Regions from separate parts of the Homo sapiens genome. Here regions 1 and 2 are each linked to region 3. Evidence: fine-mapped expression QTL. A gene starts in region 3. Each other region holds a variant in brackets. All regions are shown on one strand. Distances are between the middles of the regions.

Evidence for each region. PIP is the estimated chance that this variant, and not a neighbour inherited with it, causes the effect.
Region 1: its variant is fine-mapped to the expression of MYT1 in thyroid (GTEx, PIP above 0.99).
Region 2: its variant is fine-mapped to the expression of MYT1 in thyroid (GTEx, PIP above 0.99).

Annotation. Positions count from the first base shown.
Region 1 is chr20:64,223,344-64,231,520 of GRCh38, forward strand. MYT1 (myelin transcription factor 1) reads left to right here. Exons shown (of 23, transcript NM_004535.3): 16 at 1-16; 17 at 4,072-4,134; 18 at 4,545-4,628. Among named protein-coding and RNA genes, the nearest start is that of PCMTD2, 28 kb to the right of the region's middle. RefSeq lists enhancers at 195-1,050, 2,997-3,496. The variant C/G (reference allele first, on the strand shown) is at 3,997.
Region 2 is chr20:64,205,310-64,213,486 of GRCh38, forward strand. MYT1 (myelin transcription factor 1) reads left to right here. Exons shown (of 23, transcript NM_004535.3): 6 at 244-491; 7 at 2,285-3,178; 8 at 5,897-6,031; 9 at 6,739-6,829. Among named protein-coding and RNA genes, the nearest start is that of MYT1, 45 kb to the left of the region's middle. RefSeq lists an enhancer at 6,031-6,530. The variant C/G (reference allele first, on the strand shown) is at 4,189.
Region 3 is chr20:64,160,712-64,168,888 of GRCh38, forward strand. It overlaps MYT1 (myelin transcription factor 1), which reads left to right and starts at 3,741. Exons shown (of 23, transcript NM_004535.3): 1 at 3,741-4,028. RefSeq lists an enhancer at 619-2,099.

The DNA.
Region 1 (8,177 bases), 63 kb after region 3:
ACTCTGCTGACCTCAAGTATGTTTGCGCTCCCTGACCTCCTGTCTCTTGGGCGGCACCCTCGCTTTGCTCTCCTTCCATGAGGCTCCTGCCAAAATCAGCCTTCTCCAAGGTGCCAAGCCTCAGCTGGCCCCAGCTCTCCTGAGATGGGCAGAGGGGCAGGGCCGTGGAGGGGCCGATTCTGCTTGGCTGGGGCTGCTCTGCCTGTGTGCACCTGCTCTGAGCTCTGCTGTTTGCCTCTCCGCTGGGGGCTAGGGGTCGCTGCAGGCTCCTGCGCTGCTCTTGACCCATCCCCCACCCTCCAGCCTCTCCTGAAGATCCCCGACAGGGCTGTCTGGGCCTGCTTTCTTACTGCCCTAGAGATTTGGGAAAAGCCCAGAACCGACCAGGGAACGTAAGCCCTGCCGTGGCTCGGCAGGCCACAGGCTGTGCGGCTCTTGCTAAATGAACTGAACGCTGATAATGAAGAGAAAGCTCCTTCCCCTCCCCTCTCCTGTCACGCTCCAGCTGCTTCTGCCTTGGCCCTGATGCCCTCCCCCCATGCTCATGCCTTCTCTTTGCTGGGCTCACCCGTTTCTGCTTCTGTACCTCCCTGCCCCTACCTAACACATGGGCAGGGCAGGCCCTGCAGGCACCAGCTATAGCTTGCTGGACAGTCCTGCACAACCAGGCGCAAGCACCCAGAGGTTTCCAGGGGTCAGTGTCCTCCTGGGGCTGGAGTCAGGGACTGTTACTGCCTTTGGTTTTCATGCCTCCAGTTGTGCTGTGACTCCTCAGCCTGTGTGACCCTGAGCCATGGGGAGCTCCTCCTGGGCACCGGGGCCGAGCTGAGGCCTTGGAGGAAGGGGGTCCCATTCTTGTCTCCTCAGGTCACCTCTCTCCAGGGGTGTCCCTCCCTCCCATAGGCCTCTGTGTTGGGGGCCCTGAATCCAGGTCAACACACCCTGGCTTATTCCATTCTGGGGCCAGACAGGATCCTGGGCACTGGTGCCTCTAAGATGAGGAAATGAACTTGCTGAAGGCTTCTAGGGACCTTGGCTGGCTCAGACCTGGACAGAAAGCTCTAGGTCTCCCAGAGCCCCCACCAGCAGCCTTGTCTCTGTTCCCCTCTGGAGGCTGGTCTGGCCCCAGCAGCCAGGAGGAGTGTGTCATGAGGCCCTTCAGTTCCCACAGAGTGGGGTGCAGCATCTAAGTTTCCTTCCTGGAAGTTAATAGCTTCAACATAAGCATTTTCTGAGGCTGAGATCACCACAGCAGCTGCACACATTGACTTATTCATTCATTCTGCCGCCCACTTTGTCTAGTCCTAGAAACCCAGGAAACACTCAGTCCTGCAGCTTCTGGGACTGTCCTCTCTCCCTCTTTCCTTCTTCTCTTGCCATCTTTCTTGCATTCCTTTTTCCTTTTCCAATTCTGCTTTCTTTTCCGTGATTAGTCTCCATGGTTTTTCCCATTTGGGCCTGAATAATTTAAGAGGAGAAATGTGGCTGCAGGCACTCAGTGGCCCCAAATGTCACCATGTCCTTTCTGTCCTGTGAAGTGGATGCTTGGGCGGATGAAAGGAGCTTGGCACAGTTCGGGCCTGGAGACATGGCCGTCTGGGAGAGTTAGTGCTTTTTTAAGACTAAGAGCCTGTGAAGAACCTTAACGCCAAACTTCTTTAGAAATAACGACCAAAAGCCTCCCCTGTGTGAAAGTGAACCGCTCATCAGCATCAGCAGGGTTTGGGCAGGCAGCCACGGCCTCCAGGCTCCTTCAGAAACTCCACTCTCCCCCAGGGGCCTTTCCATGGGAGGCCACTTCCTTTCCTCCCTCCGACCACTGCATGAGCTTGGGACGATGGTGGTCTCCCCCCGCCACGTGTCCTGGTGTACCAACCTCCTTGCTCTCTGCCACCTCCTGTGTGAGGCGGCATCGGGCACTGGCCCCTCCTGATCAGCCTCGTGGCAGCCATGGGTGACGGTGGCCTTGGGACAAACGAGGTTCCTTTCATGACTTCCCTGTCCGCACCTGGCTGCAGCGACAGTCAGATGATGTGTGTTCTGTGTTTTAAGTGAATCCCAAGGGCGTTCACTCTTCCCTCCCATGTGTCTGATGTGGTCAAGGGCTGTGAGGACATGGCCGCCTCGGGCCACTCAGCTCATCTTGTGTTGGGAGTTGAGCTGCAACCACACACACCTGCCAGGGCATGACAGGCTTTGTGCAGGGTGAAGAATGCCTGTCCACAGCACGGGGATGGGGCTTAGAGAGGTGAGACCTGGTGTGTATTGCCAAGGTAGAGGGTGCCCCTCAGACACGGTGTTCCCTTCTGCCCAGATGGGGCACTCAGAAGCAGGTGGTGGGAGGGGTGGATGTGGCTCCAGATTCCTGCAGCTGACCCTGGGGGTCCACAGAGCCATGAGGGGCATGCAGAGGGGACACCTGCTCCTCTGACTATGTGAGTACTTTCCTCTCTGGGACACAACTCTTGAGAAAAGCCATTGAATCGGGCCTTAGTGAGGACTGCAGGATGGCCCCCCCTGTGTGTTAGGTACTGCCGGCCCCTTGGGAGTTATACCCCCACCTGAGACTCACTCACAGATGCCATCGGGAAGTATCTCCTCTGCTGTTGATGCCACTCACAGTCCAATGCTGTGCTTATCCCCGTTGAGGCCTAGAGCTGCTGTGGGTCTGTCACTCTGGCCACCTGAGTGGCCACTTGCCCACCGCACTGAACCTGAGCTCTACCTGATGCTTTGCTGCCACTGAGACAAGGAGCTGGAGCCCCAAGTGGCCACTTGAACAGCTGCCAACCCAGGAAGGAGAGGCAGGCCATCTTCAGTTCTCTTGGCTGGCCAGCAAGGTATCCAATGTGTGGCCCACAGGGCAAGGATGAAGGAATGTGAGGCTCCCCAGGAGGGCACCCCAAAAAAACTCCTAGGGGCCGAAGAGAAGGTTGCAAGAGGTGGGGCCAGCCCTGCTGTGCCGCCACAGCCCTTTGGGTGCCAGGCTGTGCCCGGCTTCATCTTCCTCCAAGCGAGGAGATGTCCTGTCCCAGTGGCCGGATGTCACATGTGCTGGTGGAAGACTCCGGTGAGGAAGGGCCAGCAGCATGGAAAGTGAGACGTCCTCCCTGGGGTCTGAGCACCACTGCAAAGTGCCTTTGAGCAGCAGGTGATCTGGACACAAGCACTGAACTCTTGCCTGGCTCCTGCAGGGTCAGGGGTCAGGAGGGGTGAGGCACAGAGAGCAGGCCTGACGGGGGATGGATCTACCCGCAGAATCAGGTCACCTCCTCCCACTCTCTAACATCAGCAGGAACTCACATATTTTTTCCTCAGTGGACATTCGGAAGAAAATAACATCCGTGCTTGTAATATTAAAGTGGAATTTTGTACCACCTTATGTGATACATTCGTCAAATAGTTTTGGGTGTGTAAAGTTGGACTTTTGTGTTTCTCCTCCTTACTCTCTGCTGTAAGCCACTGGCTGTGTGAACTCTGCAGTCATGCTATACAACAGCCAGGCCTGGCATGGCCAGCGCCATCTGCTCTGCAGCAGGTGTGCAAAAAGGCCTCTGTTCATTTACCAGCCCATGGTGGCCACGCTTTGTGAGGGCAAGCTCCCAGCCCATCCAAGAAGATGAACTGGTCTTAGGCTGTGCTTCAAGTTATGGCTCAGATATGCTCTGAATGCCTTTAGTCCAGACCGGACCCTACAGAAGTCCAAGCTGGGAGCCCTTCGTGTCCTTGGCTGCAGTGGACCCTGTAGGCCTGTCCCAGTGCCCAGGTTTGGTGTCTGGGTGTAAACCGATGCTGGAGCAGCAGTTGGCTGCTCTCCTCTCAGACTTCCTGGTCTCCCTCGGGGAGACGGGGGAGCAAAGCACTGAACCCCTGAGATGATCGCATCAGACCCCTGTTGCTGGCAGTCGGCAGCCGGGGTGAACATCGGCGATGCTCCTCTGCGGACAAGGGAATGTGGGTGGGCGCACTCAAGGGCTGAGCCCAGAAGGCTTTCCT[C/G]TGGGGGTCCCAGGGCTCTGGGCCGGGGCTAAACGCCTTCACGGGCTCCCGTTCCAGTTCTGCTTCCCTCTGCAGGTGCCCCACGCCCGGCTGTGACGGCTCTGGCCACATCACAGGGAACTACGCTTCACACCGGAGGTGAGCCTGCCACACCCTCAGGTCCTGGGCCCCAGGGGTGGGCAGGGAGTCTCTTCCTTATATGAAGATTAGAAGACACTAATGTTGCTGACAGCTAGAGTCCATTCCCATCTCTTTAATCTGAATTGTTGCCATTTCCAGAACCTGATTAAGTTGTCCTCTGCAGTAAGATAAAAAGACAAGGGGTCAGGGCTAGGGGCTCGTGGTAATGCTTCTCCTTCCCGACCCTGCTGCCTCGTGTGAAGGCTGTGTCTGTGGATTCTGCTTCTTACAACTGACCCATCGGTTGCCCTCACTCCCTCCCACCCCACCCTGGGGTCACAGAGCTTGAGGGGAGAGGGTGAGATGAACGGGTGTGAGAAGCTGCGGTTCCAGCACTAAGGTGGCCTTTTTTCCTCTTTCGAAATCAGCTTGTCCGGCTGCCCTCGTGCAAAGAAAAGTGGAGTCAAGGTGGCACCCACCAAGGACGACAAGGAGGACCCCGAGCTGATGAAGTACGTTGGGCCATGCTGGCTCTTTCATTGCATTGCGGAATTGAGATTTTCGTGTGTTTTATAATGTAAAAAAACTCCTACTAGATTCCCTTTTCATTAATACAACGGGTCACCTAACTGACCAACGCCAACTTTCGTTTCTTTCATTTTTATGGAAGCTCTCATACGCTACACGTTGATACCTGTGAAGATAGGAGCCCTGGATGTCGCGTGGAGGGCATGGGTGCCAGATTTTCTGGGCTTTTCAGGTCTGGAGTATTTGACGGGGCTGGGAGAGGCAGAGCACCCTTCTACCTATGTCTTAGGGCCACCTGGGAGTGGGCCCCAGGGCCTTGCAACCTGCAGAATTTGTCTGGCAGGAAAGGTGAGATGCAGGAGTCAAGGAGGAGAAGGTGGTTAGAACAATGTTGAAGCTCCAAATCCCATGTGTCCATCCACCCACACACCTGTGCAGAGAGCTGGTAGATTGAGAGAGCCAGGAGGATCTAAACTGGGAGCCAGACACTGTTGGGTGAAGGAAAGAGGACATCTTGGGCCTTAAGTGACCCAAGTCCTTGAGGAGAAAAGATTCTCCTCTATTGCTCTTCTCACTGGGGCAGGGTGGGGGCTCGTGTGTCTTTGTGGGGCTTATAGGTGAACCCTGACTCTGTGTGTTATCCTACTTGGTGGGGGTTTGTGTCCTTACAAGCTTATTCTCCCAATAGGGAACGGGTCCCCTGCACTGCCCACTTTTAGGTGGGGGGAATGCTTTGCTACAGACTCAGACCAGGTGACCCACTGGCCATTTTGCCCAGGACCGAGGTACTTTCAGAGCTGACATCTGGCAAAATGGGCAGTGGGTTCCCCAGCAGGTGAGCAGAGTGGAAATGATGGCTCTGGACACCTTGTTGCCCAGGGTTAGGGGCCGGCTCGGTCGGGACGGGGCCCTACTATGCCCGCAGGAAGCAGGTTGCCCTCGTTGTGTTACCTGCTGGGCCAAGAGCAGCCAGACCTCACGCCCGGGGAGGGGCAACTTGGCCTGAGATTGGGTTGCTCCTCCTGGTAGTTTGCTCCAGCTGTGCCCAAACACCCGGCCACACTGGAGGAGCCTAATTGACCAACATCACATCCTTCAGACGGGGATGGGCCCACCAGCTGTTTGGTGTAATAGGCTGTGGCTTGTTTATTTATTTAATTTTTACAATAAAACTGTAATGAATGCTAAATTAACAATGCAAAATTTTGGTTGTTAGTACTATGAAGGTCGCACACTAAATGCTGAGGTGGATAAAAAGCATTTTGCCCCTGAGAATCCAGGAATTTGCCTATGATCATATAAGTGCAACACCTTTATGGATTTGGCAAGGATCCTGCTGGCAGGGATATTATAAGTGAATCGTGCTGCATTTGCAAATGATTAAAATCAAGATCAGCATTTTTCAAATTAACCAGGAAAAATGGTTTTCCTTTCTAATGTGCTGTCAACTGAGCTTTAAAAAAAAACAAGAGTTCTGCAGCCGAGTGGAGACTGTGACTTTCAGAAACACTTCAGCATTTGCAGGATAGAGGAAGGTCCTAGAGGCTCCATGGCAGAGGGAACCTGACTACTGAACCCTCCGTTTTACAGGGTTCCTTCCCAGCCATAAACTTTAACTGCACTTGTAATTGCCTAGCATATTTAAACAGATGCATATCAAAGCAGAAACTGGAATGGATGTGTCAGGTCATGCTGAGGGATGGGATTTCGTCAGCATGCATGAGCTGTGATTTGGGGAGCCTGGTGGAACAGGAGTCCTTTTTATGATATCTCCTGCCTGCGCTATTTAAAATTAAGTCACATCAGGCGCTTGGTGGTAAATCCCTTTGCCACAGCTTTATAACTGGTCATAAAAGTCTTGCGGAGGTTCCAGCATGGGAGTCAAGAGGTGAATGCTCCCCTTGCCCTGCCCACTGTCCCTGGAGGGGACTTCTGGTCCTGGCCATGTTTCTCATGTCACTGGCACACACGGCTTCTGCCCCCCAACACGTGATAGGAAACACTAGCTCACCCAAGAAGCACAGAGGCCTCACCAGCTCAGTGCCTGCCCCCACCGCCCCAGCACCTCTCAACATGATGTCCCTGACAGCTTGAAAGTCTCCACACCAGGTTTTGTGAGAAAGAGAACATACCTGAAATCTGAAATCCTCTCCATGTATGCGATTCAAGGGAACAAAAACAGTTTCCCTTGATGAAGGGGAGTAGTGTTTTGCAAGAAAGGGAGTGAAAATAACTCAGATTTGGGCCGGGCACTGTGGCTCATGCCTGTAATCCCAGCACTTTAGGAGGCTGAGGCGGGTGGATCACCTGAGGTCAGGAGTTCGAGACCAGCCCGGCCAACATGGTGAAACCTCATCTCTACTAAAAATACAAAAATCAGCCGGGCGTGGTGGCGGGCGCCTGTAATCCCAGCTACTCGGGAGGCTGAGGCAGGAGAATCGCTTGAAGCCGGGAGGCGGAGGTTGCAGTGAGCCAAGATTGTGCCACTGCACTCCGGCCTGGGCAACAAGAGCGAGACTCCATCTCAAAAATACTACTACTACTACTAATAATAATTCAGATTCGACTGTGTAGAGTAGCTGAAGAGCCAGCCACCCCCCATTTGGCCACAGAGCCTCTTCCCAGCCAGTCTGTGCCTGGTGCAGGTGTCCCCCAGGGTCCCATGGCTGGGCCATCCCCATCAGAGGGGGGCTGGACATTGAATGTGAACTTCCCAAAGCTCCCATAGGGGCCCCTGGCAGTGTCTCTGCTCTGGACGGGGATGAGGTGACCTCGGACTGGCTCAGGGAATGTCCTAAAAGTTTCTGAGGGCCAGGTGGGTGGGATGAGTAACAAAGGGAAAAGAACCAAGAGAGGGGCCTGTGGAGAGAGAGAAAGCAGGGTCCTGGCCGAGTTGGCTGGGAAGGGTCTGAAACGGCAGCTTCAGAGACGAGGCCAGAGTGTGGGGGCAAGGAGCCGGACGCTGCCCTCCCTGTCCAGGCCTTGTTGACCTTCCACTGGGCAGCGCAGCCCTGAGCCGCCTCTCACCCCTACGGCGGGAGCCTCTGCCCCCGCCCCCGCCCCCTGCTACCGTCCTCCCGAGCGCTTCCTGCGCTGACAGTGACTTCCCTGTATGCCCATGAATCTCCTCGTAAATGGAGCCATGGTGACCTCTCGGGGTCTTGTGTTGCCAGGTAATCAGCACACAGGGAGTGTGTGACAAACGGTAATTTGGATGAGTTTCATTTATGAAGAGATAAGAATGAGCCTTGCAGATTGAAGATCTTGTCCTGGGTTTGGCGTGGGTTCCTGGATGACGTGGTCCCTCAGCTCCCCAAGTCCTGGTCCAGGTCCTTCCCTGAGGCAGTGGGGACAGACACTCAGAGAGGTCATGGGCCTGGGCCCTCTGCGCTGTCCTGTTTGTCTCTGACCCACACTGAGCCCAAGGCATTTGCCAATCTGAATTTATGTTATTTTCATAAGGGCCTCTATCCCTCTCCTGGAACACCCAGAACGAAGGAAAGGAAAACACCATTTAAGGCCAGCCTCAGGCA
Region 2 (8,177 bases), 45 kb after region 3:
GAGGCAGCGACTTCCCACTCTAGCATGGAGGTCCGTGTGGCCATGGGCGTGCCATGTGGGCGAAGACAGACCATCTGACCCCCTAGTGCTGCACTTTGCTTTTTTTGTCCGGGTTCCCTGCAAGGACTGGATGAGTCTGTGGGGAAGGGAGGGAGGGAGGACCCTCGGGAGGGGCTCATGGGGTGTCTGAGGCCTCTCGTGGCCCTAGCCTGGTCCTCTCCACTGCCTACTCCTCCCTCCCAGTTTACAGAGCTGCCCCCTGGCCAAGAAGAGGAAGCTGGAGGGCGCTGAGGCTGAGCACCTGGTGTCCAAGAGGAAGTCACACCCCCTGAAGCTGGCTCTGGACGAGGGCTATGGTGTGGACAGCGACGGCAGTGAGGACACTGAGGTGAAGGACGCCTCTGTTTCGGATGAATCGGAAGGAACTCTGGAGGGGGCCGAGGCTGAGACGTCAGGACAGGACGAGATTCATCGCCCCGAGACAGCTGAAGGTGCTTTGTCGCTCTTTCTTCCCCGAATAAAGGGCGCTTAGTGTGGCCCTGGAGAATTGCAGCCTGTGAGCGGGGAGGGGCTCACTCCGGGCAAGAGAAAGCCCTTCCTGAGAACAAGGCATGTCTTGTCCCAACATGTGCTGGGCTTCCTGGGAGAGAGGTCTGCCCATGGTGTTTATGGGGCCTGTGGTGTGTTTGTGTGTGAACACTGTGTGCGTAGGAGAGAGGCAGGACAGACAGAGACACGGGGCTGGTGTGTGTGTGTGCAGTTGTAGTGTGTTTTGGCAGGTGTGTCTGCATGTATATGAGAGAGACAGACAAGGCTGTGTCTCTGTGTGTCTGTAAGTGGGGAAGGGAGGATCTTAGACTGGCCCTCTGTTCTGCCTGGCCCTCTGGGAGACCTGCCTGGGGGCATGGGTGAGAGGTCTGCGTTCCCCTGAGGTACTCACAGGCAGATGCTGAGGAAACACCTCAGGTTGAGCTTCAGGTGATTGAGGACCAGATGGAGCCTCTGAAGACGGGGTGCCCGGGGAGGCCAAGAGGGGAAGGAGGAAAGCAGACGAGTCCCCCACTTCCTTGTGGGGTCTACCAGGACTGCCATGTTGGAGCTCCTAGCCCTTGGCAAAAGTGCATGAAGCAGGTGCTTTGGCCCCTGGGTCCCGGAGGGAGGGGTCTGTGCCCCTGAGAGCCCTGGCAGATCTGTAGAGACCTGGGGTCAGATGAGGCCCAAGGTCCACTCCCCCCACCATCCCCACCACTCACCCAGCACTCCCCAAGCTTCTGCAGTGGGGAAGGGTCTGAGATGGATTTCAGAAGCAAAGCCAGAGAGGGTCCTCAACCCCAGCTCCCTTGGGGGGCTCTGGAGTGAGTGCGCTGTCCCGTGGAATCAACATAGTCCTAGATCCCAGGTAGAAAAGACACACATTTTCCTGCTTTCTTATCAAGAAGGGCGTCTGGGGTTCAGCTGTCAACCTGGGCTTGGACTTTCCCCTCCGAAGTAGGTGGATGGCAGGGCCCATTCCTACCACTGTGGGACGTGCTGGCCCAGGTGTCCTTGCTGACAACCCTACGGGGCCTGCATGTGGTGAGCACCTACCATATCTTAGTTTCGTTTTGTTTTTGTTTTGAGAGAGTCTCACTCTGTTGCCCAGGCTGGAGTGCAGGGGCACGATCTTGATTTACTGCAATCTCCTCCTCCTTGGTTCAAGGAATAGCTGGGACTACAGGTGTGCACCACCACGCCCAGCTCATTTTTGTATTTTTAGTAGAGACAGGGTTTCGCCATGTTGACCAGGCTGGTCTTGAACTCGTGACCTCAGGTGATCCGCCCGCCTCGGCCTCCCAAAGTCCTGGGATTACAGGCATGAGCCACCGAGCCCATTCTTATTTACTGATTTTCAATTATGAAACAATTATTATTATTTTTTTAAAATCTGACTTGCTGCTTAAGCTCCATTGTATACAATGCAGGTTTATCTGATTTGGGAAAGTAAACGTGATGGGAGAGGAACATTAAGAAAAAGTATCAAAGTAATTCTTAGTTTAAAAAATACATCAGTGGCCCATGACCTGCCTCCTAAAATATATTCACCGTGATTTCTGGATTCAGGCAGAAGGGTTGACAGAAAGGTCCATACCAAATCCCCACTTCTGGAGTTTCATGTTTCCCCTTGGCTCCCGTATAAAGAGTGAGTGGTAGGTCAGGTGGAGGGGTGGTGGGTGTGTTGGGGACTGGAGACCTGGAGTCTTCCCACGTGCTCTCTGGCCCCCACGTTGATTTTGATTTTGTGCAGGAAGGAGCCCCGTCAAGTCCCATTTTGGATCCAACCCCATCGGCAGCGCCACTGCCTCCTCCAAGGGCAGCTACAGCAGCTACCAGGGAATCATCGCAACTTCTCTCCTGAACTTGGGTCAAATTGCTGAAGAGACCCTGGTGGAAGAGGACTTGGGCCAGGCGGCCAAGCCAGGTCCTGGCATTGTGCACCTGCTTCAGGAGGCTGCAGAGGGAGCTGCCAGCGAGGAGGGTGAAAAGGGCCTCTTCATCCAGCCAGAGGATGCCGAGGAGGTCGTCGAAGTCACCACCGAGCGCTCCCAGGACCTGTGTCCCCAGTCCCTGGAGGATGCAGCCAGTGAGGAGTCCAGCAAGCAGAAAGGCATCCTGAGTCACGAAGAGGAGGACGAGGAGGAGGAGGAGGAGGAAGAGGAGGAGGAGGAGGATGAAGAAGAGGAAGAGGAAGAGGAGGAGGAAGAGGAAGAGGAGGAGGAGGAAGAGGAAGAGGAGGAGGAAGAGGAAGAGGAAGAGGAGGAGGAGGAGGCAGCTCCTGATGTGATCTTTCAGGAAGACACCTCTCACACCTCTGCCCAGAAGGCCCCTGAGCTCCGGGGCCCAGAATCACCCAGTCCCAAGCCTGAGTACTCTGTTATTGTGGAGGTCCGCTCGGATGATGACAAGGACGAGGACACCCACTCCCGGAAGTCAACAGTCACTGACGAGTCGGAGATGCAGGACATGATGACCCGGGGAAACCTGGGCCTCCTGGAGCAGGCCATCGCCCTGAAGGCTGAACAGGTGCGCACAGTCTGCGAGCCGGGCTGCCCGCCTGCCGAGCAGAGCCAGCTGGGCCTGGGAGAGCCAGGGAAGGCAGCAAAGCCCCTGGACACTGTGCGGAAGAGTTACTACAGTAAAGGTAGGGCTCAGGGGTGGCCTGGCCCTGCAGACTCATCCTTTCACCCCTGCCCCAGGTGTGCAGATGCAGGCTGAGAGCCCTTCTAGGACAGGGGGCTGGGGGATGGCAGAAAAGCAGACAAAAGGACAAATACATGACACAGACTGTGGTCAGATACTGAGCAAATGGGTTCCCACACTGCTTTACATAGAGCGATCTGGAGCGAGACACAGCGGAGACGTGTGAGAAAGAACCAGGTGGGAGAGAGGAGGTGGGAGGGACAGTGACCCACCCACAGTGACTGGTCACAGCAGCATCTGGGGTCTGGAGAGGGTGGGGACCGTCCTGTCCCTTCCACCCCAACTCACACTCGTGGCAGGGATTGTGCTATGACAGAACCCGCTGTTTCCTACAGCCATGCTGGGTCATCCTGATCCTCTCGTGGGGTGGAGACCAGCAGGCAGATGTGAGGGGTGCCCTTGCTCCTCAGAGGGAGCAGCCTGCCGCTGGCTCTGCATCTGTCTCTGGATTTGGCTCTAAAGTGTGCAGGGTACAGGGGAGCCATCCCCTGATCGCACGGAGTGGCTGATGTTGAGGTGAGGATAGACAAGGAGGGCTGCTTGGAGGGGCCTGGGGCTGGGCTGACGTGGTTGGGGAGCAGCTGGGAAGCAGCTGATGTGGTTGGGGAGCAGCTGGGAGCCTGGAGTGCTGAGGTCTGAGGACGAATCCTGAGTAAACGGTTACGGCCTTCATTGTTACTGGGGTGTCAGGGTCTGGACAACAGGCTGGCTCTGCTCTGCTGACTGCCCATCTCAGATTCCTCCTGGGACAGGGGTCTGGGGAGCAGGGCTGGCCAGGGGCTGCTCCCTCAGTGAGCCATGCCAGGGAGGCCAGGCCTTGGACAGGTCAGCTTTGACCCAGCCGGCCTGGTGCGGAGGGCCTCCTGCACCTGGGCACTTGGCCTCTATTCTCCTAAGACTAGGGACCTGCCCTGATCTCGGCCTCTTTTTTCCCCATGTCTAGTCCTGCAT[C/G]TCTTCTCCAGGTGGACGGGGGCAGTGGGAGTTCTTGGTGCTCTTCCAATGAGTGCCCCCAGGAAGAGTTAGCTGAGACCAGGGAGGGAGCAGATAAGGAGAGAGAACTGGGATGGGAGATGACTCAGGTGCTGGAGCCACGAACCAAAAATGCAGGAGACACGGAATTGCCAACCCTGGGAAGATGCACTTGGGTCATGGGAGAGACAGACCTGAGTGAGACATAATTCAAGGGGCATGATAGGCAGGTCAGTGGAGACACGAGGGACATGTTTTCCGGGAACACCAGGCATATGAGACAAGCTCAGGGGAAAGATGCTAAGGGGACACAGGTGGGGACATGGTTTCAGGGTGAGATGGACCCAAAGAATGGCTTTGCGGGGACACCCTTTAGGGCAACCCAGATGGCGGGACAGCTCTTTGGGGACCCAGATTTAGGTCGGCAGTGTCATGCTCCGGCCTTGTGGGGCCATGGGCACAAAGAGACACAGGCTGAAGGTGAGACTTAGGGACAGGTGTCAAGGGCCCGGGGTGGTTACTAGCCTGGCTGTGGTGTGCTTGGGCCGCACAGATCAGCGCAGAATTTGGTGGGACACATATGAGGAACACAGACACCAAGTGACAGCCCTAGGCCCAGGTTTTTGAGGGTCTCAGACCTGTGGGACAGACATAGGAGGACCCAGATGCAAGGCATCCTGCCTTCAGGGATAGATTTTCAGTGCATGGACCCAAAGGGACACGGCCCCGGGTGACACAGGTGGCCAAGCTGAGAACACCAGGCAGTGCCCAGCTGGGCTGTGAGTGTCTGTGCAACGTGAACGTGCGGTTCTGGTTCTGAGGGACTGATGTTGGGGCACAGATGCTGCGAGAATTCTGGACAGAGGCCGTGGGACAGGGGTGGCAAGCCCAGGAGGCCGGTGTTGGGCACGGGTTTGGAAGCCCCTCAGGACACCCCTGCCTGTCCACATGGGTGGAAGTCTGACTCCTTTGAACTTGGGGCAGCAGAGCAAGAGCTCCTTCCCTTTGGAGCCCCCTCCTGGGACCCTCCTGCTCTGAGGTGGGAGTTCTGAGTTTGGCTCTGTGACCTCTGCACCCTCCCAAAGGGGACAGCTCTCGTCCAAAGGTGTTTCACTGAGATGTCAGCTCTGCTCTGAGGGTCCTCCGTGTTCCTGCTGGTCCCTATACTCTATAGTGACCGGCCTGGACCTGCAGAGGCTAGAAGAGGTCGATAACTGAGATTTGGGTTTACATTTCTGCCCAGGCATAGATTAGTCATGCAGCCTTGGATAAGTTACTCAACTCCTTTGTCTTCCTCGTTTTGTCAAATCCCAAGGATATCTCCTGGCAGGAATATTGCCAAACGCCTTGACCTCTCTAGGCAGAAGGCTGACCCATGAGGCCTCCACACTGTCAGAGGAGAGAGGAAAGAGGACTCCAGCGGCCGTCTGGGTTGTTCTCCTTAAAACGCTGCACAAACTGCTATTTGGGATTGTCAGGGCAGCCTCAGGGCTTCCGCACAGGCAGCCAGTGTGGGCTGGTTTCTTCAGGGTCTCCTGACTGTCCAGCCCCAGTCCCTGTTCAAGCTCATGGGCAGTCTCGCCTCCCTTCTCTCTGGACAGCCAGAGAGAGGGTTCCTGAGCTACCCCTGCCCCCTCTCTGCTCACCACCCAGCTTCCTGGCTCTAACTGATGTGACTTGTGTGTTTTAGATCCTTCAAGAGCTGAGAAGCGTGAGATCAAGTGTCCAACACCAGGCTGTGATGGCACTGGCCACGTTACCGGGTTGTACCCTCACCACCGCAGCCTTTCTGGCTGTCCCCACAAGGATAGGATCCCCCCAGAGAGTGAGTAGCTCTGTGCAGCGTTAGCCCTAACTGTGAAGCTCACGCTGCCTCTGTGGTGTTTGGGTGGTGTCTATGGGGAGGCGTGGCCTGCCCAGGGCCATAACCTTCCCCTTTGGTTTGTCCAGATGCTCATCCTTACATCTCCCCGCTTTCCCCCACAAACTCCCTCAGCCCAAACTTGAGCCCTTTGAGGCTGGGGCCCTGCAACCAGCCCATTTGTCTACCTAGAGACGCCAGTCCGGGTCAGAGCCCACAGTAACAGATCGATGGGAGGGGGACAGGCTAGTGCCATCCAAGCTGGGAAGGGAGAGGTCTTCTTGCAGCAACCTCTGTGCCCTGAAAGCTTAGGAAGCAAATACTTGTTCTTATGTTTAGGCTAGAAGCAGTAATTGTGAAAATTAAATTTAAAGGAGCAAACCACAGAATGAGAGGTTTTAAAGCTGAGTCTGGTTTCTGCCGCAGGAGGGAGGGACCACAGTGGTGGTGGCGGTGGGGGGCATGCCCTGACCAGGCTGAGGGTGGGGAGTTGTGTCTGCAGGCTCTTGGGGGCTGGAGCTGCCCTGCGTTGCTGTGTCCCCCACCTGCCTACCAAGCAGCAGCCTTTGGACAAGGCTCCTGCACCCTCCTCAGCCTGTGCTCCCCACACAGCTGGCGCTCCCCAGATTCTCTGACAGCCTCGGCTCCCTCCACCCCCTGTTCTCTTACAGTCTTAGCCATGCATGAGAACGTGCTGAAGTGCCCCACTCCTGGCTGCACAGGCCAGGGTCACGTGAACAGCAACCGCAACACGCACAGAAGGTACTTGGACTGAGCTGGGCCGTAGTGGGGGCCAGGGTGGGGGCCGTGGTGGGGGCCAGGGTGGGGGCCGTGGTGGGGGCCAGGGTGGGGGCCGTGGTGGGGGCCAGGGTGGGGGCCGTGGTGGGGGGCTCCACGTGGGGTAGGGCACCTGGGTTGGGCCTGTGTGTCCCTGCCTGGGCCGTGAGCCCGTGACCTGGGACGGGGCTCTGGCCTGCCTGGGGCTCCCTGTGTGCTACCCTTCTCCCAGCCTGCCGCCCTGAGGAGTGGGTACAAGGTCAGGGCACACCTGGGCGGTGAGGGGCCTTTGTGAGGGCAGAGTGGCAACTGGAGGTGCAGTCACCCAGTGGTGTTGCTGCCTTAACCCTACGAGCTCCCGAGAGAGCAGGGGGCGGCCTGCAGAGGAGGGAGCAATGCACCCTCTGTGAAGAGAGGTACAACAACCATGTGAGAGCCAGGTGAATACTTTGTGTCCTACCCACATTCAGAAAACCTCTGCACACTGGCTCTTGCTCCTGAGTGGGAAGGGCAGACATGAACAGTAACCTCGGCAGGCCAGGACTGTGCTCTGGGCTGCTTTGTGGGAGTTCTGAGGCCCAGGTGGAAGTGAAGCTTCCCGACCACCCTCGAGGTGTAGTTGTTGACTGGTCTTCTATGGTGAGGGGGGACTACTCCTCCAGCCTTACCCTAAGTGCCATGGGTGGCCGTGGCCTCGGTGGGATATGCTTTCCCCCAGCAGGCTTATGCTCAGCTGAAAGGACTGCCAGAGCTTTTGAGGTCACTTCATTTGAAAAGAGGCCAGTTCCCCATTACGTCACCTCCCTGGGCTGGCTGAGGGACTGGCGCTGGAGCTCACAGTTAACTTTATTCTGACAGATGAAGCTGCTGCCTCCGTGTCTTAGACTGAGTACTTTCCTGGGCCTGTGTCATCCAGGGTCAGTGCCCAGGCTGTGGTCCAAGTGGGGCCCTGGGCTGCCCCAGAGCAGCTAACAGAACAAGCGCCAGAGAGGGCTGCAGAATCCAGCCCTGCAAGCTGGGAAGGGAGAGGAAGGGGGTGAGGGCAAGCCTGTCTCCCAGACCCATGCAGAGGAGGCATCTTTGCCCAGAGCTTTCAAGGCCTTTAGGATATATTTCATCTTTGTGTGTCCTTGGCATAGAATGTTCCAAAACAGAAACTGACTGGGCAGCTTGTACTGTGAGGGCTCAAGAACAGAGCCAGAGAGAAAACCCCTGTCCTGCAGAATGACAGGGTTATTCCCGGCTCTGGGCTTCTCTGGAGTTCACCTGGAGTTCTCACATCTGAATGACCTTGCCGTGAGACACCCACACACACAGACACCCAGGACAGGAC
Region 3 (8,177 bases):
CAATGGCCAGGGCCCCTGGGGAAACAGCCACCTCCCCTTCTAGCGGATCCCGTGGCTTGCAGAAGTGCTGACGGCACAGAGCCCTGTGAACGCTGCCCTGCAGAAGGTTGGAGGTGGGAGGGCGGTGGGCAGGGTGTGTGCAGAGGCCAGCTGGGCCTTCTTTCTGTTGATTTACCTGCCTGGATCTGCCTGGCAGGCCATATAGCTGGTGGGTGTCAGGAGCCCTTGGCCTGGAGCAAGGCTCTGTGAGACTCTGTGAGAAGGTGGCAGAGAGAATGTGTGTGCGCGCGCGCGTGCGCGCGACAGATGTCCCCTGGGACTTAACTGTAGCTAAGGGGCTTTGGCCAGGGCCGCTGCTGCTTGCGTCCTCATCACACTCAAAGTTGCTGTGTGTGTGAGTGCACGTGTGTGAGTGTGCATATGTATGTGAGGGTCTCACAAACTGGATGCCAAATGTTTGTGAGCGTCTGCGTGAGTGTGAGACAGAAACACAAAGTCAGCCCCGAGTGTGGCGGAGAGTGGATCCCGGTTTTGTTTGCTCCATCTGCCAGGGCCGGCCTGGGGCAGCACCCCCGCCCTCAGCTGTTCTATACAATATTAATGCTCACCATCTCGGCCTCACACAACGGCCCTAATTGTCGTCTGCAGCATTAAGGCAGGCGCCCATCTGCGGGGAAGCTTTCAGAAGGAAACAAGAAAACCCTCACCCCCAGCTGGTCACCGGAGAAGGTGGTGCCAATTACAGATGCAGAAAGTTTAGACCAAAATTACTTGAAAGAGTTTTTATGAAGCAAATGAACTGACACTTGGAATGTCTGTGTGCAGATTTGCACAAGTAATTACACTTTATTTGAAATGATCTTACCAGCTAAGCGATCATTAAGCCTGCTCCCCCACTCACACAAAGCGCTTTCTCAGCGAGTGCGGCTGCGGCGTAAGTTTGGTTTTGCAAATCTCCCGTTTCCCTCCCCGTGTGGAGTCTGAGGACCCGCCAGTCAGACAGGAGTTATTTCCTGGTGGATCTTTCCAAACATATTATTAAAAAGTCACATGTGACTTTCCCACAGACTTTTATGAAATAAAACCCAAAGGAACAGCGTGCAACATGCTCAGTTATGGAAGAGAAAATATTTTATGATTTCAAAAAGTCCTGACAAATTTTCACCCTCTCTAAGAAAGGAAGCTTAAGACTATACCTTGCTGTTGTCACTTACAAGCAGGGATCTGTTGGGGTTTGGAATTCTCTGTCTCAGCCCGGAGCCCAGAGTTCAGCGATAGCTGAATACTGGTGCGAGCTCAGAAGCTTCCGTGTGCGGAGAACAAAGACTGAGGCGCTCTGGGGGGAGAGCGCTGTCCGAAGTGCTGATCAGACTTCGGATCCACCCACCGCTCAGGCCGCCTCCCAGGGGCTGAAGGGCGGCAGCCGAACCGGAGAGACGTGCCGGCGGCCGCTCTTCTGTCCTGCTCTTTTCCCTGGACTCCTTTGTCTTGACGGGGTCAGCTAAAGACTTCGAACCTTTACTCATCAAAGCTCATCTTCGGAAACTGCTCATAGCACTTTAACCTCCCGGTGGGAGCTCCCAGGGCGCCCTAGGTCCTGCCAGCAGGCACCGATTTCAAGTTTCCAGGCACATTCTGAATGCTCCTCCTGGCAGCGCCACAGAGGGTCTGGGGGCCCATTCCCGACCCCCGGAGCGCCACACCTCAGGAGGCCTGTGATTGTTCAAAAGGGGAAGTGAGAAATGCCGAAAGACTTACGTTTTCACAAATACAATTTCTATTACCTGAAAAAACTGTTGTGCCCCACGAAGCCCGTGTTGCGCAGGTTCATCTCTCCTGCTGCCACCTCCGCTTCGCTGTGGTTTCTTAGGTGTGACTGTTGCATATCTGAATTAAGTCGCTTTCATGAAACCTTGGGTGTCGTTGGGAAATAAGGCTGATTCAGCAACGGCCCTCCCTTTGATTCTGTATTCATCATGGAACAATGGCCCGCAAGCCTGCCCGGAGCCTGCAGCCTGCCGATAAGAGTTTAATAGAATTTCTGAATGCCGAAGGTTTGGGGTGTAAGACATCCTAGCACTCACAGCATGTCCAGAGGAGACAGAAACGGCTTTTCAGGAGTGCTCTCAGCTGAATGTGTCCTTTTATACTAATGGATATAAGTTTATGACAGAAATTAAAAATGGTAGGCAGTCATTGTGGAAACCTCGAACTGTTCTCATTTGACTAATTAATATTTCATCCTCAGTTTGACCAGTGCAGGCTTGCATTTATGTCCTTGTGCTCAATCTGAACAATTGCTCTGTGTGCATTTTGTGTTTTATTTGTTGAGGATAATGTGTGCGTATAAGAATCTAAGATACTTGCCTTTGGGGTGAAGCTTTTGGTTTGTATGTAACGTGTAAAGCACAAACTGTATGTTAAAAATAAGCCACTAAGATTTTCAAAACATGCTCTCTTAGAGAAAGCTGTGTTCAGTTCTGCCTCAGTCACACTTTTGGTGGCCCGAGCCCTTTAGCGCTAATTAAGTTGGGGTATTGTGCTCTTGCATAATTTACCAAGAAATGATGTTTACTGTCTGTTGAAATCTCTGCACTGAACTTCTGAGATGTGAGTTTTCTGCTTCTCCAGCTGCCCTTGGACGGCGGCATCTTTGCAGGCGTCTCACATTGAGTTTTCACCCTTGTGTTTCACAGTTTCATTTCTAACATCCTGATTATGATAATGGACAATCGTTTGCCTGATTTATCAGTACAAGAAGGAGATTTGGGCCGCAAACAAGAATACTCTGGCTCTTGAGTTCTCTTACTGAAGAAATTCCCACTTTATCCCTGAATGTGGGGGAAAATATCACAAACTGGCAGATGAGAAGGCAGACAGTCAGGCTGCATAGAGAGTGGGTGAGCACTTCTATTGTGTGTGTTATGGATTTTTCTCTTCTTGATTTTCACTGGATAGCTCCTTTCAGGCCGTTTATAAAAGAATCAGGAAAAGAGCAGAAAACTTGGGCAGTGTGCTTCGCTCTGGTTGCAATAAACTTAGTCTTTTTGTGGGGGGGTTCCCATGCCCAGGAATCCCTGAGTTCTCTTTGGGAAGGTTTTTATTATTGTAAAAATTAAAGTGAAAAGGGAAAGTGTGAGAACAGAAAAATGTCTTTTCCTGATCTATTCTTTGTGTGCATGACTCTATTTTTTGGTCTGTGGCTATAGTTACCTTTTATGCCGTTAAAAAATACATATCCATTTAAGTCAGGGGTACTTGAATATGCAGATGAGCCGATATGTAATATTCCTGGTTCATTTGAGTAATAAATTCTGCAGCCCGCTCTTTATGATGGTAGATCATATTCCTCACCACCAATAAATATTGTAAAGTACTTTCGCTGTAGCCATGCTAACCCGGGGCATCTGTCATTCCGGTTGCTGCTATTAGGAATTATTGGACTGAACCACTGGCAGAGAAAGCAGAGGGGGGTGAATGTGGTGGTTGTGATGCTCTCTGCCCTTTTGTGTGTTTTGCTTTTTAAAAAAACTCAATCATGCTGCACATTGAGTATGAATCAGTGTGGACAAACATAGGCACCTTCTGTTGGCCGAGGCTCAGAGCAGGACACAGGACTCCACCGGACTGGGACACCTCTCACCCCCAATTCAGCAGATCCATCTTTCTGATGCTATACTGTAAATTTATTTCACCTCAGAGAGTAAACAGATATATTGGAGCCCCAAGGGTTCATGGGTAGCGTATTTACAAAGGAGCCTCCTCCGCCAGCCCGTGCCACCGCTGCTAATGAGAGCAGTCATTAAGTAAATGAGACGTCGCCTTTAGCTGGCTTAGGAGTTCGCACACTAAGGGGAGAAGATATTTAATTGAAACCCGCACGCAGGCTTCCCCACATGTGACCGCTGTACGGGAGGCAGCTGCCTTCCCTCTCCTCCCCCAGTCCACCCTGCACCCCCCATGTAAATTTCATGATTGCTTTCCGTGATGTCATTTTGAAAGAGGACAGACAATAGCTGTGGGGAAAGGTAAGTCAACGTTACGTTCTTTCTGACAAAGGCAGATACCCAACGCTTGGCTTTTCCTCTTGGACAGAGACAGGGAGAGGGCGCGCGGGCAGAGTTAATTTCTAAGATGAAGGCTCTGTTTGCAGGAAAAGCAGGTCTGAGGATGGCTTTTTGAAACTGCTCTGGAGGACGGGGGCTTTCTTCTCCTCCCTGGCCTGCCGTGTGCTGTTTTTCTCCTGTCTCTCTGTTGTTCATGCTCCTCTGAGATTCCAGGGGACATGTTGTGCGTCTGACAGAGGAGACATTAGGGGAAGGGGAGCGCATATCAAAACCAGAAACTTTATGCGCATTTCTGGAAGAGGAACAACGGATATGTCTGTGGCCGTGGGACCCAGCAGCCCCGTACCTGGGGAGAGCACTGGCCGCTTAAGCAGAAGACCTCTCTGAAGCAGGGTCTCAGAGTCTGGGGTGTGTCATGTGTGACCCCCACCCAAGGTACTGAGGAGAGGTGCTCACGTGAACGTTTTGTCTGCATGTCATGCATTTCTCAACTTAAGGATCAATATCTAGGGTGCATGCGTCTGTGGGATAGATGTGCAGAAGTAAATATCGGCCGCTCCTCTCAGCCCCTTTTTTCGCTACGTGTCCGTGCAGCTGTGGAGTGTGGTTGTTTATGGTGGTAGTGTAACTGGATTTTTGTATTTAAAACTAAAAATCAGGGTTAGCTAAGAAGTTGAACACCCTAATGCCATTGTCTGTAGTTCTGGGGCCGTGGACTTTGGTTCTGTCTATTGAATTCACTTTCTTCTCTATAAACCAGGAAAATAAACAAGTGCTGGTGGCTTTGTGTTGGAGTGGTGGGTTCTCACTGCTCCTCCTGAGTCACCAAGGGCTTTGCTTGTCTCAGCATCACCTTTGAATCAGTGGACACCATTGGCTGGTAAAGTTGGGTGTTTAATTTTGGAAACCAAACATTTGCGGTGGTGCGGGGGGTTCCGTGGCTGCAGGTGGGTTTGGTCCTGGGCATGGACTCTGTCACGATGATGATAATGGCAGCGATGATTATAATTATCCTTTTGGGAGAGGTCGGTGGAGAATTTTGCCCTTGCAGTTTTTTTTTTTCTTTTAAATCACAGAAAACTGAGGACACCTCTAACGCCAGTGGCTGAGTGCACAAAAGGTGGGAGGGATGTGGGGCAGACCTGGGGGGGCCCACTCGGTGCTGAGGGGTATGCTCTGCCTCTGTCTCCTCTGAGGTGCCAGCAGAGCCTGTCCTGGCCTCACTCTGGCCTGGGGAGTGGGGGTGCTGTATCCTCTACAGGGCTGACTGAGGGAGGCTCCCCTCGGCCCCCAGCCTCCCTGCCACCCCGGGCTCCCCTCCCATTGGTCCTTGGCTGTGATTATCGCCTCCTTCCATATGGCCCTGTTAATTAACGGTAAACAAAAGAGTAAGAGAGCAGGGATTGGAGTCCTGTGGTACCAGCCAGGGTGCTGCTATCAGTAGAGGCAGGACCCTGCCCTGTCTCCCTCGGTAGCTGTTCCTTGTGCAGAGGAGGCTGGGTCAGGGCTTAGAGGGCAGTTTGTTTTCAAAGAGAAGGAGGCAGTCTTATGGATTCTTCTGTCCCGTAGAGACTGAGACTCCTACAGGGTCCCCCCGACCCCCTGGGCACCTGGACGTTTGCCGAACTTCCCAGGGGTACTTGCTGATCCAGGAGCTTGAGCAGGAGCCACAGAGAGTTGGACAAAGAGGCCTTTCTGCTCTGGAACAGCCTCGGCTCTGACCTCCTTGGGCCATGAATCCCTGAAGAGGGCCTGGTAGCCCTCTTCAGAGACCCGAGGCAGGGGGGCTGCTTCTGTCCAAAGTGCCACTCGAGGGTTTTTGTGACCCTCAGCCATTGCCCACAGATCTGGAGGTAGCCTCAGTTGTTCAGAGCTAATGCTCTGGCCCCTCTTGGAAGATTCTGGCAAAGGCAGTGGTCACCTACTCCCTTGAATGCCCCTGGTGCATGAGTGGGGAAACACTCTCTGAGATGACCCCTTCTAGCCATGTGGGATGCAAAGTTGCTCTGGTCTGGGGGTTGCAGCAGCCTCTACTTGGAAGCTCTGTTAGTGCCGGAGATGTCAGGGAGAGGCTGGCAGAGGGTATGCGGCCACGGGGGTGCATGCTGGGCAGCTCTGGCAGCTGACCAACGGCAGCCTGGATGGTGGCTGGAGCTTGGCCTGTCCCTGCTGTGGATGTGGTGGGCGCTCTCCCTGGTGCTGCTCAGAGACTCACTCCCTTCCTCTCTGGCCTGGGGTCACTGAATGTGCAGACAATGACATTTGTGGTGGTGTGGTGGGTAGAGGAGACCCACACCACTCTGCACTGGGGAGACAGGGGTCAGAGCCTGACTAACTGTCTTCCTGGTGCTGCTCAGTCTGGTGATGTCTGGGCCGCTTGGAATGCCAGTTTGCACAACCCAGTACTGTGCAGAGAGAGCAGGAGAGGTTCCTGAAGACTGACAAAGTGCCAGAGAGAAACCCGGGGCCTCCAGCCGCTGCTCGGTGGCAGTGGGCGGGCTGGTGGGGGCTGAGCTCTTCCTGGACGGACTCAGTGCAAAAGGTGCGTCTACTTTGGAAAAGACTGAGCAAGGCTTGTGTCCACCCAGTCCCTCTGTCGGGGCTCAGGGTGGGGATGAGACCGGGAACAACCAGAACACTTTGGTCAGCACCGGGCCTGGAGTAGATGAGGAGGTAGAGAACTGACCCAGCTGGTGGAACAGGGGTCAGGAGGTTAGCTGTGGGGTGGGTGGGGGCTGCTGGCGGTCACCTGATCTGCGAGCAGGCAGGGTACTGGACGGTCAGCCAGACTTTCATGTTACTCAGGCATCTTGAAGAGTGGATGCTCTGCCTGTCCCAATGCTGGAAGACACATCTCAGAGCCCCTCTTTTGTTGCCTGTTCTCTTGTAGGAACCTGGGCGGGAGAGTGGAGCAGGGTGCCCGCAGGGGCTGGGGGGGCTCTTCTCTTTCTTCCTCTCTCCCATCTTCCTCATCTTAGATCCTCCCCCTCTGCATTTTCCGTGTGAACTCCCTCATGAATAAACCAGAAGTTAGTTGTCTACAGATGTAATTTTAACAGGAATGTTGTGGTGTGAGTTTACAGGAAAATGGTCTTTGGGAACCAGCATCATTAGATTAGTCAGACCGAGAAACGCCGTGTTTCCCAGAAGGGAAGAGAGCAGTGGCTGCCGTGCTGCTCCCCCGTGGGCTTCCTGCTCTTTGGGGACTGCGGGACCCATCCCCGCTCCAGGACAGCCCCACTGGGGAGCCCACTGCCCAGCCCGGAGTGTCTGCTGGAGGCCTGGGGGGTGGAATGTGCTTTCACGGCCTCTTGAGGTTCCCGGCATTTTTCTGTCTTTCAGACCAAATTTCCCCAAACATCACTTTAAAAAACTCAAAACAAAAATGAGCAAGAGGAATTTCACCGGAATTAAAATGTTTTTGATCTCAGGCTTCCACGGAGCCAGCTTCAGAGAGAAGAGATTAATGGATACTTGCAAGTGGAAAGTGTAGTTTGAAAATGTCTTCCTGTTTCTCTTCAGTGTTACTGGAACTAACCAGATACAAGTGTGGAGTCTTTTCTCCCCAGGGTTAATGCCATTAGGAGCGTTCCTTGTGGGAAGATTGGTTTCACCCATCACTTCATCCTTTTTTTTATTTTACAATTTGCACTTAAAAATGCAATGTTATTTTAATCGGGAACGAAAGTAACTCAGCGTGCTTTAATCTGCCCTGGCTGAGTACATCTGCCTTGGCCAGGATTGGAGTCCAGGCCTTGCAGAGGAGAGAGGATGTCGACACAGCTGTGGGTGTCTGTGGTCCTCCTGCCACCCCTTGTCCTGCAGCACCGGAAGCCTCCACTCAGCAGCCCCAACCTTCAAGAGAGTGACTTTGTGCTCTGGCAACTGAGTGTGTGGTTTGCCCTGGGGTTGCTTGGAGTTGATTGGATATGTTCCCTGTGCCTTGGGGTTTATTTGGGACTGTGGCCTGGGAGCACGGCCTGTGCCAGGAGGGTGCAGGTTGGATGGTCCTCAGGAAGTAGGCTGCAGCGCTCTGCAGGAGTCAGGGTGGCCAGGCAAGGTGGGGGTGAGCACTGGGGATCTGGATGCTCGGGAGGAAAGGTGGAGGCA